Linked DNA regions of Homo sapiens: regions 2, 3 and 4 are each linked to region 1. The links come from fine-mapping of genetic effects on gene expression. A gene starts in region 1. Each other region holds a variant in brackets. All regions are shown on one strand. Distances are from middle to middle. Region 1 holds the start of DNASE1 (deoxyribonuclease 1). Region 2 has its middle 15 kb from the start of SLX4. Region 3 overlaps NLRC3 (NLR family CARD domain containing 3). Region 4 overlaps LINC00921 (long intergenic non-protein coding RNA 921).

The links. PIP is the estimated chance that this variant, and not a neighbour inherited with it, causes the effect. A credible set is the group of variants that fine-mapping cannot tell apart.
Region 2: its variant is the best candidate, but not a certain one, in a credible set for the expression of DNASE1 in memory regulatory T cells (Schmiedel 2018, PIP 0.89).
Region 3: its variant is the best candidate, but not a certain one, in a credible set for the expression of DNASE1 in whole blood (TOPMed, PIP 0.56).
Region 4: its variant is the best candidate, but not a certain one, in a credible set for the expression of DNASE1 in T cells (TOPMed, PIP 0.81).

The regions. Positions count from the first base shown.
Region 1 is chr16:3,652,709-3,656,869 of GRCh38, forward strand. DNASE1 (deoxyribonuclease 1) reads left to right here and starts at 1,983. Exons shown (of 9, transcript NM_005223.4): 1 at 1,983-2,336; 2 at 2,665-2,812; 3 at 3,141-3,229; 4 at 3,394-3,477; 5 at 3,930-4,045. The coding sequence starts at 2,666. It overlaps LOC124903631 (a long non-coding RNA gene), which reads right to left. Exons shown (of 2, transcript XR_007064954.1): 2 at 1-4,161. RefSeq lists enhancers at 2,160-2,687, 2,688-3,215.
Region 2 is chr16:3,624,494-3,628,654 of GRCh38, forward strand. It overlaps a transcript of DNASE1 not described here. Among named protein-coding and RNA genes, the nearest start is that of SLX4, 15 kb to the left of the region's middle. RefSeq lists an enhancer at 1,501-1,600. The variant T/C (reference allele first, on the strand shown) is at 1,816.
Region 3 is chr16:3,559,240-3,563,400 of GRCh38, forward strand. It overlaps NLRC3 (NLR family CARD domain containing 3), which reads right to left. Exons shown (of 20, transcript NM_178844.4): 5 at 3,770-4,161; 6 at 2,463-2,549. LOC101929732 (a long non-coding RNA gene) reads left to right here. Exons shown (of 4, transcript XR_007064953.1): 4 at 1-350. Among named protein-coding and RNA genes, the nearest start is that of NLRC3, 16 kb to the right of the region's middle. RefSeq lists an enhancer at 2,623-3,123. The variant C/T (reference allele first, on the strand shown) is at 2,370.
Region 4 is chr16:3,267,456-3,271,616 of GRCh38, forward strand. It overlaps LINC00921 (long intergenic non-protein coding RNA 921), which reads left to right. Exons shown (of 2, transcript NR_033904.1): 2 at 1-112. Among named protein-coding and RNA genes, the nearest start is that of LINC00921, 5.8 kb to the left of the region's middle. The variant G/GAGA (reference allele first, on the strand shown) is at 1,864.

The sequences.
Region 1 (4,161 bases):
TGGTTTACCTTCCTGTTTCTAGTCCCCACTGGGCCTGCCTTCTGCTTCATGGCCAGCTGGCCAGACCGAGCACTTTCCTGACTTTCGACCTTGGCCCCTGCTGACTCTTGCCGTTGAGGCCTCCTGCAGACCCCATTTGTATTCATTTCCTGCAGTTCTCATACCTGAATCCCGCCTGGACTTCTGCCAAGCCTTCCAGGCCCTCCTCCCCCAGGGGGACCACAGATGCTACGTGCAGGGCTGTCCTTGGAGGGCCAGCACAGCCCCTTCCAAGTGGGCAAGACCCAGGGGTGGCTCAAAAGATAGCTGTGCCCTAGCCCTGGAACCTCTGAATGTTGATTTTTGTAGCAAAAAAGGACTTGCAGATGTGAGTAAAGGCTGTTGAGATAAGGACATCCTCCCTGCTCTCTGGGAGGACCCCAAATGCAGGTGCACAGATCTTAAGAAGAAGAGGCAGAGACTGGGGTGATGCAGCCACAACTAAGGAAAGCCAAGGATTGCTGGCAGCCTGCAGAAACTGGAGGGCAAGGAGCATCCCCCAACCGCCCGGAGCCTCCAGGAGGCGCAAGGTCCTACTGACTCCCTGACTTCAGACGTCCAGTCTCCGGAATTTTGAGAGGATCCATTTCTGTTATTTTAAGCAACCAAACTTGTGGTAGTTTCACCAGTCTCAGGAAATGAATACGAATGGAAAGTCAAAGATTCCAAGAAATGAGTGGCGGGGTGCGGTGGCTCACACTTGTAATCCCAGCATTTGCGGGAAGATTGCTTGGGCTCAGGACTTGGAGACCTTGTGTCTGTGAGAAACTTAAAAAATAGGCTGGGTGCGATGGCTCACGCCTGTAATCCCAGCACTTTGGGAGGCCGAGGCAGGCGGATCACAAGGTCACGAGTTTGAGACCAGTGTGACCAACATGGTGAAACCCTGTCTCTACTAAAAATACAAAAATTAGCCGGGTGTGGTGGTGCGTGCCTGTAATCCCAGCTACTCGGGAGGCTGAGGCAGAAGAATTGCTTGAACCCAGGAAGCAGAGGTTGCAGTGAGCCGAGATAGTATTACTGCACTCCAGGCTGGGCAGCAGAGCAAGATTCCGCCTCAAAAAAAAAAAAAAAAAAAAAAAAAAAAAAAAAAACTGAGCATGGTAGCATGCACCTGTGGTCCTGGCTACGCCGGAGGATTGCCTGAAGCCAGGAGTTCAAGACCAGTCTGGACAAAAGAGCAAGACCCCATCTCTACCAAAAAAATTTAAAAATTAGCCAGGCATGGTGCCGTACCCATAGTCTTAGCTACTCAGGAGGCTGAGGAGGGAGGATTATCTGAGCCCTGGCGGTTGAGGCTATAATGAGCCATGATTGTGCCACTGCACTCCAGCCTTGGCAACACAGTGTGAGACCCTGTCTCAAAAACAATAAAAACCCAAAACAAAAGAACCAAGAAATTACTGGACCTGAGGCCTGGCCTTTAGCTGCTGCCCTGCCCTTGTGACCTGGTCACTCGGGATCCCCTGGGCCTAAACACACAGCCTATTGTCTACCTCAAGAAGGCTCCCCACTGCTTGGCTGGCAATTGGGGTGGGCTTTGCAGGCCCCACCTGTCCTGGCCCCACGGCGCTGGTGCTGCAGGCCCCCACCACTGCTTGTTCCGAGCTCCCCAGCCTCCTGCAGAGTTGCCTGCACCTGATGGCGATGAATCAGGAAGGCAGGCGTGTCCTGGGCCACAGAGCAGTCATGGCTGTCAGCCACCAGGGGGCTCCATTTGCAACTTTGGATGTGGCTTTGGCCTCTTTGTCCAAAGTGACCTTGGGGCCCCCAGACAAGAGACAGGGAGACTGGAGCCCAGCCCCACCCTCCCGCACATACCTGGCCCATCCCTGCCCTATCCTGGAAGATGGGGGCCACCACACGTGCAAGGGACACGGGATAGGAACCTTTGGCCTTGTTATCAGACATTTTAAAACTAAGTGCAAACGTGATTATCAGGTGCAGTTTTTACAGCAGCAAGAAACCTGTGCTTACAGAAAGAAACACGTGCTAGCAACCCACCTATGCGGAAAGCCACACAGAGCCATTGTTTTCTGCACTCTCAGGTGACGGCTCACATTTGCCCCAGGGAAGGTCACAGCTGCCTGAACTTTTAAAACTCCCAGACACGCACTGCCTGTGCAGGATCCGGAGCCCAGCAGCACTGCCAGGGCCTTGAAGTGCTTCTTCAGAGACCTTTCTTCATAGACTACTTTTTTTTCTTTAAGCAGCAAAAGGAGAAAATTGTCATCAAAGGATATTCCAGATTCTTGACAGCATTCTCGTCATCTCTGAGGACATCACCATCATCTCAGGTGAGCACCAGGTGGAGTGCCTCTGGGTGACTGGCCGGTTTGGAGCAGGGAGGGAGGCTTAGAGTCTCATCCTCCAGCAGCGAGTGAGGCGGAGGCTCCAGCGTCCCTCCCGGGCGGGTTTTCTGGTGGATGGAGGAGTGACTCGGGGTCCTCTACGTGGTGCCAGCTGTTTGGCTTTCTGGACGTTGTAGGAAAGGGTTTCCCCCGCCTGCGTCCCCCTGACCTTGAGCTCCACCAGCCCCTGCCAGCTGGGCTCCAGAAGGCTGGAGTGCTGTGGCAGGGATGACGTCTCACTTCTGTTATGTCTCTGTGCCCTGTGCTCTCCCAGGATGAGGGGCATGAAGCTGCTGGGGGCGCTGCTGGCACTGGCGGCCCTACTGCAGGGGGCCGTGTCCCTGAAGATCGCAGCCTTCAACATCCAGACATTTGGGGAGACCAAGATGTCCAATGCCACCCTCGTCAGCTACATTGTGCAGGTGAGGCCAGGGCAGCCTCCCCCCAAAAGCAGAGGAGCTCTGGAGTCTAGGGCTGGTGGGCAGGGCCAGCCCTATGGAGCCACAGGGTGTCGGGTGTGGGGTACTGAGCACCACTGCTCCCAGCACGGTGGAACAGGCTCTTGGCTGTGGACCAAGGTCCTCATCCCTGCTGTGCTGTCCCTGGCTGGCAGCAGGAGCCCAGGCAGAAACATGAGGCTGCGGTTAAACCGAGCAATGCCACGAGCATCAGCTGTGGCTCCCTTTGTGGCGCTGTAGGGTCCCTGGGTGGCACCAGCCCTGCTCAGCACCACTGTGGCCCTGCCCCCAGATCCTGAGCCGCTATGACATCGCCCTGGTCCAGGAGGTCAGAGACAGCCACCTGACTGCCGTGGGGAAGCTGCTGGACAACCTCAATCAGTGGGTGACAGTGGCAGGGTCATAGGAAGGTGACATCTCGTCCACGGCACAGCCTCACTTCACTTGGGCCCCAAGGGTGGGGACCTGGGCACAGCCTCGCTATCGGCAGCCAGAGGGGTCCCCTATGGCCCCCGCCACTGGGACCTTTTGTTTCTTCAATCCAGGGATGCACCAGACACCTATCACTACGTGGTCAGTGAGCCACTGGGACGGAACAGCTATAAGGAGCGCTACCTGTTCGTGTACAGGTGGGTGGTCTAGAAAGCCAGGAAGCCCCTCCCTCACCTGGGAGGGCCCCAACAGAGCAGGGAAGTAGTTTGTCCTATTAGTTTGTCCTATGGCAAGAACCTGAGGCTTCAGAGCAGGGTCCAGGGTGGAGTGAAAACACCCCAAGGTCCCGGACCAATGGGTTGAGCAGGTGCCTGGCTCCCCCGCCCTCCTGTCGCCTGGGTCCCGGACCAATGGGTTGAGCAGGTGCCTGGCTCCCCCGCCCTCCTGTCGCCTGGGTCCCGGACCAATGGGTTGAGCAGGTGCCTGGCTCCCCCGCCCTCCTGTCGCCTGGGTCCCGGACCAATGGGTTGAGCAGGTGCCTGGCTCCCCCGCCCTCCTGTCGCCTGGGACGCGACGCCTGCCTCCTGGGAAGCAGGAGTGGGGCAGCTTCCAGCCTGGGGTCACCTCCTCCTGCCCGGCCTTCCCGCAGGCCTGACCAGGTGTCTGCGGTGGACAGCTACTACTACGATGATGGCTGCGAGCCCTGCGGGAACGACACCTTCAACCGAGAGCCAGCCATTGTCAGGTTCTTCTCCCGGTTCACAGGTGGGTGCTGCCTGGGCCAGGGTGGGGCTCGGCTTGGCGCTTATGGCCTCCACCCCCTCCTAGGGAACCTGGAATGCCTGTGTCACACACTGCCCTCCCAGTCCCTGGGGCTTGGG
Region 2 (4,161 bases), 28 kb before region 1:
CTGAGTTCACAGTGGCTGAAGCTGTTCCCATAAGACCCTGAATCTAGCAGCCACTGTGTACTATACCTGGAGCAGTCCAACTGGGTGGACTGTGCTCAGCATCCGAACATCTAGACAGGCAAAGCCATTCCCAGTGGTGGCCCAAACCAGCAAACATTGTGTAACAATTTTTTTGCAATCAATTTTTCTTTTCTTGTTTTTTGAGATGGAGTCTTACTTTGTCGTCACCCAGGCTGGAGTGCAGTAGTGGGAACTTGGGTCACTGCATCCTCTGCCTCCCAGGCTCAAACAGTCCTCCCACCTCAGCCTGTATTCTATTTCTGTAGCTGAGAATATAGGTTTCTTCCAGCACACCTGGCTAATTTTTTATTTTATTTTTTATTTTTAGTAGAGATAGGGTTTTGCCATGTTGCCCAGGCTCGTCTCGAACTGGGCTCAAGTGATTTGCTTGCCCCAGCCTCTCACAGTCTGAGATTACAGGTGTGAGCCATCATGCCCAGCCTGCAGTTTTTCTTATTAAAACTTAATGGGGGCCGGGGGCAGTGGCTCACTCCTGTAATCCCAGCACTTTGGGAGGCCTAGGCGGGCGGATCACCTGAGGTTGGGAGTTCAAGACCAGCCTGGCCAACATGGTGAAACCCCGTCTCTACTAAAATACAAAAGTTAGCCAGGTGTGGTGGTGCATGCCTGTAATCCCAGCTACTTGGGAGGCTGAGGCAGGAGAATTGCTTGAGCCCTGGAGGCAGGGGTTACAGTGAGCCGAGATCGTACCACTGCATTCCAGCCTGGGCAACAGAGTGAGACTCTGTCTCCAAAACAAAAAACAATAAAACAAACTAATGGGGCTAGGCATGATGTTATATTCTTGTAGTCTCTGAAACTTGGGAGACTGAGAAGGGAGAATTGCCTGAGCCCATGGTTCAAGGCCAGCCTGGGCTGTGTAGTGAGACCCATCGCTGCAAAAAAAAAATTGTTTAAATAAAATTAGCCAGCATGGTAGCACATGCCTCTACTCCCAGCTATTCAGTAGGCTGAAATGGGATCGCTTGAGCCCAGGAGGTCGAGGCTGCAGTGAATCATAATCGCCTTTCTGCACTCCAGCCTGGGCAACAGAGCAAGACCCTGTGTCAAAAAATAAATAAATAAATGAAACGGCCAATATAGAATAAAGGTGCTAAAAAAGGCATAGGAGGGAATCTTCATGACTTTGGGGTAGGCAAAAAATTCTTAAACAGGGACACAAACCACTAACCATAAAGAAGTGACAAATTATGTGACATTAAAATTAAGAACCTTTATAAGGCACCATTAAGAGGGTGTAAAGGGCTGTGCATGGTGGCTCATGCCTGTAATCCCAACACTTCAGGAGGCCGAGGCAGAAGGATCGCTTTAGCCCAGGAGTTTGAGATCAGACTGAGCAAAATAGTGGGACCCTGTCTGAACAAACAATTTAAAAATTAGCCGGGTGTCAGGGCATGCGCCTGTAGTCCCAGCTACTCTGGAAGCTGAGGTGGGAAGATCACTTGAGCCTGAGAAGCCAAGGCTATAGTGAGCCGTGATTCTGCCACTGTACTCCAGCCTGGGCAGCAGAGCAAGACTCTATCTCAAAAAGGGTGTAAAGATACCACAGACTAGAAGATGTGTGTGATGTGCACGGGACTAGTATCATATGCACAATGACAAAGGATTAATATCTAAAGAAATCCTAAAAAAAAAAAAATAGAAAAACAGGCAAGAGACTTGAGTGGCCAACAGGTATATGAAGAAGTGTTCAACTTATTTAGTCAAAGAAAATGCAAATTAAACCACAGTGAG[T/C]GATCACTAAACTCAGCAGCATGAACAAAATGAAGATAACTGCTAGACAATAGCTAGTGTGGTAAGGACTTCCTGTTTGAGCCATGGTTATTTAGAAGTATGTTGCTTAATATCAAGTGTTTGGAGAGTTCCCTCATTTTTCTGTTACTGGTTTCTAGTTTAATTCCATTATGGTCAGAGATCATACTTTATATGATTTCAATTTTTAAAAATTTGTTTTGTGACTTTTATGGCTTAGAATATAGTCCATCTTGAGTGCTCCAAGCTTGAACACTTGAAAACACTATATATTTCTCTGTTGTTAGGTGGAGTGTCCTCTAGATGTCAGTTAGATCCAGTTGGTTGATGATGGTGTTCAGGTTGCTGATTTTCTGTCTACTGGTTCTATGTATTGAGAAGTGTTGAAGTCTCCAGCTCTGATAGTGGATTTGTCTGTTCTTCATTTGTCAGTTTTTGTTTCATTTATTTTGAATCTCTTTTGTTAGATGCGTATGCACTTAGGATTATGCTGTCTTGATGAATTGACCTTTTTTATCATTATGTAATAGCCCTCTTTTATTTATTTTATTTTATGTTTTTTAGAGACAGGGTCTTGCTATGTCACCCAGGCTGGAGCACGGTGATGTGATCAAAACTCACTGCAGCTTTGAACTCCTGAGCTCCAGTGATTCTCCTGCCTCCGTCTTCTGAGGAGCTGGGACCACAGGCACATGCCACCATGCTTATTTAAATTTTTTTTTTTTTTTTGGTAGAGACAGGGTCTCCCTATGTTGCCCATGCTGGTCTGAAACTCCTAGCCTCAAGTGATCCTCCCATGTTGGCCAAGTGCTGAGACTACAGGCGTGAGCCACTGCACCCAGCCCTCTTTATCACTGGTAATTTTCTTTGCTATGAAGTCTACTTTGCTTGTTTGACATTAATATAGCCAGTCCAGCTGTCTTTTGATTAGTGTTTGCATGACATATCCTTTTTTTTTTTTTTTTAGACAGGGTGGTCTTGCTCTGTCACCCTGGCTGGAGTGCAGTGGCATGATCACGGCTCACTGCAGCATTGAACTCTAGCTCAAGCCATCCTCCCACCTAAGCCTCCCGAGTATGGGACTATGGGTGTGTGCCACCATGGCTGGGTAATTTTATTTTTTATTTTTTTATAGAGACAAGGCCTCACTATGTTGCTCAGGCCCGTCTGGAACTCCTGGGCTCAAGTGATCCTTCCACCTCAGTCTCCCAAAGTGTTACATGAGCCAGTGCACCTGGCTTGTCTGTGTTTTCTTTTGTTTCCTATGACTTTGATATGATATCCATGTTCTTTTGCATGTGGATATCCAGTTTTCTCAGCAACATTTATTAAAAAGACTATCTTTTCCCCGTTGAATGGTCTTGGCATCCTTGTCAAAATCATTTGACCATATATGCCAGGATTTATTTCTGGGCTGTCAACTCTATTCCAATAGTCTGTATGTCTGTCTTCCTGCCAGTACCACATTGTTGTGATTACTGCAGTTTGTTAGTAAGTTTTGAAATCAGGAAGTGTGAATCCTGAATCTGTTTTTCTTTTTCAACATGGTGTTGGCTATCTGGGGTCCGTGGAGATTCCATATGAATTTCAGCATGTATTTTCTATTTCTGCAAAAAAAAAAAAAAAAAAAAAAAAGTCATTGGGATTTTGCTTCAGTTTACATATGAATCAGTAGCTCACTTTTGGGAGTATTGACATCTTAACAATATTAAGATATCTTGTCTTAACAATATCGTCCAACCCATGAAAGTGTGATGTTTTTCCTTACTTATATCTTCATTAATTTCTTTCAGCGATGTTTTGTAGTTTTCATTGTATGAATCTTTTACCTCCTTGGTTAAAAGTCCTAGGTATTTTATTCTTTTTAATGCTATTGTAAGTGGAATTGTTTTTATAATTTCCTTTTCAAATTGTTCAGTGTTAGTATATAGAAATGCAAATGATTTTTGTGTGCTGACTTTGTATCCTGCTGCTTTGCTGATTCTGTTATTGTAATTATTTTTTGTGTGTAATGTTTAGGCCTAGTTTTTTACATATCATATTAAATCTGTGAATTAATTTTACTTTTTTCTTTCCAATTTGGATATATATTTTTTTCTTAATTGCTATGGCTAGAACTTCCAGTACTAGGTTAAATAGTAGTGGTAAAGGTGAATGTTCTCATCTTAGAAGAAAATTTTTTAGTCATTCACTATTGAGTATGATGTTCATTCAATGTGCATTTCTGTTTTTTTCTTTCTTTTTTTTTTGAGATGGAATCTCGCTGTGTCGCCCAGGCTGGAGTGCAGTGGCGCAATCTCGGCTCATTGCAAACCTCCGCCTCCCGGG
Region 3 (4,161 bases), 93 kb before region 1:
TATAAGTTGTATTTAACTTCTAGGTGAAATAGGGATGTGGCACTGAGGATCAACTACAGAGAGAGGTAAAGAAGAGCATGTGGCCAGAGAAGAGATTTTTGGCTTCATTCAGAATAATTTACTTTTATTTTTATTTTTAGTAAAGATGGCATCTTGCCATATGTTTGCCAGGTTGGTCTTGAACTCCTGGCCTTAAAGAATCTCCCCACCTTCCAGATTGCTAGGATTATAGGAAGGAGCCACTGTGCCTGGCCCCCGAATAATTTCTGAGCACTACCTAGTCTGCTTTAAGCAAAACTAAAAGTTGGCTATTTTGTCATGTGCTAAAAATGCAGGAGGCGCTCACAGAGGAAAAAATATTAATAATGAGAATTGTCATTCTTTTACTTTTCTTTTTTTTTTTCTTTTTTTTTTTTTGAGACGGGGTCTTGCTCTGTCACCTCGGCTGGAGTGCAGTGGCGCAATCTTGGCTCACTGCAACTTCTGCCTCCCAGACTCAAGCAGTTCTCCTGCTTCAGCCTCCTGAGTAGCAGGGATTACACACACCCACCACCACCACGACTGGCTAATTTTTGTATTTTTTAGTAGAGACAGGGTTTTGCCAGTTTGACCAGGCTGGTCTCGAACTCCTGACCTCAAGTGATTCACGGGCCTCAGTCTCCCAAAGTGCTGGGATTAAAGGCATGAGCCACCGCCCCTGGCCTAGATATCCTTTTAAGCCCATTTTTACCCTCTTAAGGCACAGAAATGACTTCTTCAAACTCACACAGAGCCTACACCTCTAAACATACTCCCCAGTGCCTTATTTTTGTTACTGAATTAGTGTAAATTGCCATTAACTCAGATAAAGATTACTTCAGAACCCAGAGGCTTGTATGAGAATGAAGAATTACCCCTGGCCACAGTGGCTCACACCTGTAATCCCAGCACTTTGGGAGGCTGAGGCGGATGGATCACCTGAGGTCAGGAGTTTGAGACCAGCCTGGCCAATAAAGTAATATAGTGAAACCCTGTATCGACTAAAAATACAAAAATTAGCTGGGTGTGGTGGCATGCGCCTGTAGTCCCAGCTACTCAGGAGGCTGAGGCAGGAGAATTGCTTGAACCCGGGAGGCGGAGTCTGCAGTGAGCCAAGATCGTGCCACTGCACTCCAGCCTGCCCAACACAGGGAGACTCCGTCTCAAAACAAAAAAAAAAACAAAATTAGCCCTTGGGTTCTCTTCTCCAAACTCACCTCCCTAGGTCTGCAACAGCCACCCTCAGAGGATCAGTCACATCGATTCAACCACAAACCCCGAGTGTGTGTAGTTTCTCAGATCCAGGAATGTTATTCCAGGAGACGTTTCATAAGCACACATTCACCATGTGAACTTTTGTCTAATTACAAGATGAAGGTTTTTTTGTTTGTTTTGTTCTTTTTTGAGACGGAGTCTCACTCTGTCACCCAGACTGGAGTGCAGTGGCGCTGGAGTGCAGTGGTGCGATCTCGGCTCACTGCAACCTCTGCCTCCTGGGTTCACGCCATTCTCCTGCCTCAGCCTCCTGAGTAGCTGGGACTACAGGCGCCCACCACCACGCCCGGCTAATTTTTTGTATTTTTAGTAGAGACAGGGTTTCACCGTGTTAGTCAGGATGGTCTCGATTTCCTGACCTCGTGATCCACCTGCTTCGGCCTCCCAAAGTGCTGGGATTACAGGGGTGAGCCACCACACCCGGCCACAAGATGCAATTTTAATTAAAAATTGTTTAAATTGATTTAAAATTAAATTTGAAATTAAATTTTAATTAAATTAAATTTGAAATTTAAAATTTTAATTAAAAATGCAATTGGCTGGGTGCAGTAGCTCACGCCAGTAATCCCAGCACTTTGGGAGGCCAAGGCTGGCGGATCACAAGGTCAGGAGTTCGAGGCCAGCCTGGTTAACATGGTGAAACCCTGTCTCTACTAAAAATACAAAAATTAGCCAGGTGTGGTGGGCCCCTCTAATCCCAGCTACTCAGGAGGCTGGGGTTAGAGAACTGCTTGAGCCTGGGAGGCAGAGATTACAATGAGCCGAGATCATGCCACTACACTCCAGCTGGGGTGACAAAGCAAGACTGTCTGGGGGGGATAATTATAATCCTGTGCCTAGAATGCTGTTGGACAGCAAACTTGGAGAGGTGCTTAGAGAACATTGTGCCTGGCATTATGTCAGCACACGTAGTGCTGTGGAAACACCTGCCTGTGCACAGCGGTGTCTAGTCCCGCCAGGTCACCTCCCTCTTCCTACTGATGAGGCACCTGAGCCTCTAGCACTTTCTGGAATTGGGCAGAAACAAGCAGGCTGCATCTGGAGCCACATGCTCCAAAGACACTTCTCCGTGGCAG[C/T]GCCGCTGGCCAGCTGAGCAGAGGATGATGGGAAGAGGGTTCCATACCCCACAAGACCATAGGCACCCTGGAGGTCCCCTGGGTCTGTGTTACCTGATCTTCTGAATGCGACAGTCCTTCCCACTCAGCACGCTGCCCAGCAGCTCCATCACGGGGTCCTGGAACTGGTTGGTGTCCAGCCTGGCCAAGGGGAGCAGTGACAGTGAGTGTCCCACCCGCCCACGGGCAGGGTGGGGGCCCTGGCCCGGGGCCTCTGCCTCTCTCCATCCCATGCAGCGCTATCACCGCAGCTCTGAGATCTGCGCTCAGCCCCAGTGCTCAGACCTTTCCCGTGAGAGTGAACAGGAGGCTGGGTGCCCACGAGACCTGCGGTTCCTGTGCAGAACGGCATCTTCCACGGGCTGTCGTCCTCACCACCCCACATACCGCCTGCCTCTGCGGGACACCTGGATGACCCTCAGCCTGTGTCCTTTCCTCCCTACTCACTAAGGTCCAGAGTGGCGGGCAGGGGACAGGCTGAAAGCATTCAGCGGGTGTGCAGCTTCTATCAGACTGGATGGTTCTGAGGGGGTTATGAATTGAATTGTGTCCCCACAAAAGATATGAAGTCCTAACCCCCTGTGCCCCAAGTATGTGGCTTTATTGAGAAATGGGGTCACTGTGGATGTACTTTGTTAAGGTGGGGCCATGCTGAAGTGGGGTGAGCCTGTAATCCAGTGTGACAGTGTCTTTTTAAGACAAGAAAGCACTGGCCAGGTGCAGTGGCTCAGGCCTGTAATCCCAGCAATTTGGGAGGCTGGGGTGGGCGGGTCACCTGAGGTCAGGAGTTTGAGAGCAGCCTGGCCAACATGGTGAAACCCCGTCTCTACTAAAAACACAAAAATTAGCCAGGCATGATGGCGGGCACCTGTAATCCCAGCTACTAGGGAGGCTGAGGCAGGAGAATCGCTTGAACCCAGGAGGCAGCGTTTGCAGTGAGCTGAGATCGCGCCACTGTATTCCAGCCTGGGCGACAGAGCAAGACTCCATCTCAAAAAAAAAGAGAGGACAGCACCATGTGGAGACAGACACAGGGAGAAGATGACCAGGCGACGGGAGAGACTGAAGTAACGCAGCCTTAAGCCAAGGGTTCCCATCAAACACTGGAAGCTAGAGAGGAAGGAAAGAACCTCTCCTATATGTTTCAGAGAGCGCATGGCCCTCCTGGCACCTTGATTTGAGACTTCTGGCCTCCAGAACTGCGAGAAAACACACTTTAGTTGTTTTAAGCCACCAAGTTCATGGTCCTCTGTTACGGCAGCCCTAGGAGACTGACAGAGAAGCTTGGTGGTGGGGAGGGGACGGCTTCTGCTCTCTCCTCTGCCCCTTCCCCAGCCCCTGCCCCCTGCCCTGGTATCCACCTGAGCTTCCGGCAGTAGAGCAGCTGGGGCAGCAGGCTCTGAAGGACGCCCTGGCTGAGGCTCAGGGACAGGTTGGCCTCCTGGGCACAGGCGTCGGACACCTGCAGGAGGTAGGCCAGGGCAGCGCGGTGCGCGGGACCAGTCAGCCTGGCCAGGGCCCCGCTCTCCATGGCCTCCTCCACGCTGCGGGCCAGCTCGGTGTGCTGCAGCTCATGCAGGCAGTGCAACACGTTGATGGCCCGTGCACAGACTGCGGCATCGGGGCGCAGGCAGCCCTGCAGGAGCTCAGCCACCTGGGTCCGGTAGGCCTGGTGCTCGCCTTGGGCCAGCAGGGAGCCGGCCAGGAGGGCATTGACCCTCGGAGACAAGAGGCCGGAGAGGAAGCGCAGGAA
Region 4 (4,161 bases), 390 kb before region 1:
GGGTGTGACGCTGGCCAAGTGATATACCTACCCTCTTTGTCCCTGTTTCTATCAACTGTAAAATGGGGGTTCTAGAGTTGTTGTGAAGATTAAATGAGCTAATACACACAAAGCACCAAGAACAATGCTGGATACAAGGTAATAGGTGTTTCTTCCTAGACTTCACTATCCTCATGTGAGGTGGGTATGTTTATTTATTTATTTGGGGACAGGGTCTCGCTCTATCACCCAGACTGGAGTGCAGTGTTGCAATCATGGCTTAGCTCCCTACAGCTTTTTAAATTTAATTATTTATTATTATTATTTTTTTGAGATGGAGTCTCACTCTGTCACCCAGGCTGGAGTGCAGTGGCACGATCTCTGCTTACTGCAAGCTGGGCCTCCCGGATTCACACCATTCTCCTGCCTCAGCCTCCTGAGTAGCTGGGACTACAGGCGCCTGCCACCACGCCCAGCATATTTTTGTATTTTTAGTAGAGGCGGGGTTTCACCGTGTTAGTCAGGATGGTCTCGATCTCCTGACCTTGTGATCTGCCCACCTCGGCCTCCCAAAGTGCTGGGATTACAGGCGTGAGCCACCGTGCCTGGCCTCAGCTCCCTACAGCTTTGACCTCCCCAGCTCAAGTAATGTCCCACTTCAGCCTCCCGAGTAGCTGACACTACAGGAATGCACCATCATGTATACCTGTGGTCCTAGCTACTTGGGAAGCTGAGGTGGGAAGATTGCCCCTGAAATAAGACTCTAGATACAGGTCCCTTTCTCTGAAATTTTTGAAACAAAACGCCTAATTCAAAAAAAGTTATTTTTGGTAGAGACGGGGTCTCACTATGTTTCCCAGGCTGATCTCAAACTTGGGTTCAAGCCATCCTCCCTCATTGGCCTCCCAAAGTGTTGGGATTATAGGCAGGAGCCACTGTGCCTGTCCAAGGTGGGTGTTGATATATTCAATTTAACACAGAAAACAGGAAGTTTGTACACACTGACTTGCCCAAGGCTACACAACTACAAAGAGTCAGGTAGCCAACATTCAGTCTCAAGGTCTGTGTCTGCAGAGCTCAAGGCCTTTCCTTTGGCTTTGCTGTCTCTTGGCATCTGGTAGCTTAGCAGTCATCAAGCCAACCCCGTCATGTTACAGAGGAGGACACAGGCTTCCAGGGGAACTGACTGACTTGAGTTCTACACATCAGTGCAGAGCTGGGACTAGAATTCTGTCCACCTAACTGTATTTGGAAGAAAGTTAAGTGCTATTGACTACACCTAATATCTGAAAGATAAAGGGAGAGGCAGAAGCAAGAATGAATAATGTGGCTGGGCGCGGTGGCTCACGCCTTTAATCCCAGCACTTTGAGAGGCCGAGGCAGGTGGATCACGAGATCAGGAGTTCAAGACCAGCCTGACCAACATGGTGAAACTCCATTTCTACTAAAAATACAAAAATTAGCCGGGCATGGTAGCGTGCGCCTGTAACCCCAGCTACTAAGTAGGCTGAGGCGGGAGGATCGATTGAAGCCGGGAGGTGGAGGTTGCAGTGAGCCGAGATCGCACCATTGCACTCCAGCCTGGGCAACAGAGCGAGACTCTGTCAAAAAGAAAAAAAAAAGAATGAATAATTTTTAAAGCAGGCTGTGAAGAACTAAAAACATGAGGACACGGAAATTCAGAAACACCCATTTCAATATGATTCCTTTCGGATAACTTGAAGCCCAAACAGGATGGAAAATCACAGGCCAAAGTCACCTGAAGGAAGGCTGTCACCCATGACGGACAACCGGGATGTTGCTCTCCATTCATCCCAACGGCAGCAAAGTCTGTCCTGGAACATGGAATGGTTTCTTTATACAGACAACTAAGACTGGCTCCAA[G/GAGA]AGAAGAGTTGCTACCACTAACCCCTACATGCTGCCTTGAAAGAGTTGGTGGTAGGTGTTGGAAAATTAATCTGAGTAATTAGGAAACAAAATTTGAAACAAAGAATCCCATGCACAATAGTAGCAAAACCCATAACCAGACATGATAAGAAATTTGCAAGACCTATAAGAAGAAAAGTATATAGGATTACAGAATTTTAAAAGTCCCAGATCATTGAAGAAATACACCACAGTCGTGGATGGAAGAGTTAATATTACAAATATATCATGCATTCCTAAATTAATCAACAAATTATAAGCAAACCCAATTGAAATTGTAACGAGATTTTTTTTTTACATTTTTAAAAAAATGTGATCTTGCTATGTTGCCTGAGCTGGTCTCAAACTTCTAAGCTCATGCGATCTTCCTGCCTTGGCCTCTCAAAATGCTGGCATTACAAGTGTGAGCCACCATGCCCAGCCATAACAAGACTTTCTTTTTTTTTTCAGACTGGGTCTCACTGTTGCCCAGGCTGGAGTGCAGTGGCGTGATCTCAGGTCACTGCAACCTCTGCCTCCCAGGTTCAAGTGATTCTCCTGCCTCAGCCTCCCGAGTAGCTGGGATTACAGGTGCGCCCCACCATGCCCAGCTAATTTTTGTATTTTTAGTAGAGATGAGGTTTCGCCATGTTGGCCAGGCTGTTCTGCCCACCTCACCCTCCCAAAGTGCTGGGATTACAGGCATCAGCCACCGCACCAGGCTGCAAGATGTTTAAGAATGGGCTTTGACAAGTTGATTTTTAAAATTCATAGCCAAAAAAATTGTGAAAAAAATACAGTGGTGTGAGATGTATTGTAACAGATATAACAACAAGCTGTGAAAATACAGTAAATTAGAACAGTAATATGTTTTTACAAGAATGGATATAAGGTAAATGGAAACAAGATTCCGTAAGACGTGTGTATATGCAAAAGATGGTATTTAAAACCCAAGGGGAAAAGGTGGCCCAACTTATAAATAGTTTTGGGACTGTTGACAGTTGAGCTGGAAAACATAGACTTCTGCCTGACATATATAAAAAATAAACTCCATATATATATATATATATATATATATATATATATATATTTTTTTTTTTTTTTGAGACGGAATGTCGCTCTTGTTTCCCAGGCTGGAGTGCAATGGTGTGATCTGGGCTCATTGCAACCTCTGCCTCCCAGGTTCAAGTGATTCTCCTGCCTCAGCCTCCCAAGTAGCTGGGATTACAGGCATGTGCCACCACACCCGGCTAATTTTTTGTATTTTTAGTGGAGATGGGTTTTCACCATGTTGCCCAGACTGGTCTCGAACTCCTGACCTCGAGTGATCCACCCGCCTCGGCCTCCCAAAATGCTGGGATTACAACCATGAGCCACCGCACCTGGCCCAGATGATTTAAAGAAACACGAAGTGTAATATCTGTAAATTTGTTTAAATTTCGCAGTGAGGAAGATCTTTCTTTTTTTTTATTTTTTATTTTTTTATTGATCATTCTTGGGTGTTTCTCGCAGAGGGGGACTTGGCAGGGCCATAGGACAACAGTGGAGGGAAGGTCAGCAGACAAACAAGTGAACAAAGGTCTCTGGTTTTCCTAGGCAGAGGACCCTGCGGCCTTCTGCAGTGTTTGTGTCCTTGGGTACTTGAGATTAGGGAGTGGTGATGACTCTTAACGAGCATGCTGCCTTCAAGCATCTGTTTAACAAAGCACATCTTGCACTGCCCTTAATCCATTTAACCCTGAGTGGACACAGCACATGTTTCAGAGAGCACAGGGTTGGGGGTAAGGTCACAGATCAACAGTATCCCAAGGCAGAAGAATTTTTCTTAGTACAGAACAAAATGAAAAGTCTCCCATGTCTACTTTTTTCTACACAGACACAGCAACCATCTGATTTCTCAATCTTTTCCCCACCTTTCCCCCTTTTCTATTCCACAAAACCGCCATTGTCATCATGGCCCCTTCTCAATGAGCTGTTGGGTACCCCTCCCAGACGGGGTGGTGGCTGGGCAAAGGGGCTCCTCACTTCCCAGAAGGGGCGGCCGGGCAAAGGCGGCCCCCCACCACCCGGACGGGGCGGTTGGGCGGGCGGAGGCACCCCCCACCTCCCTCCCGGACGGGGCGGCTGGCCGGGCAGGGGCTGACCCCCCACCTCTCTCCCGGACGGGGCGGCTGGCCGGGCAGGGGCTGACCCCCCACCTCCCTCCCGGACGGGGCGGCTGGCCGGGCGGGGGCTGACAGATCTTTCTAACCAAGATAAAAAAACTGAAAAAGTTAAAAA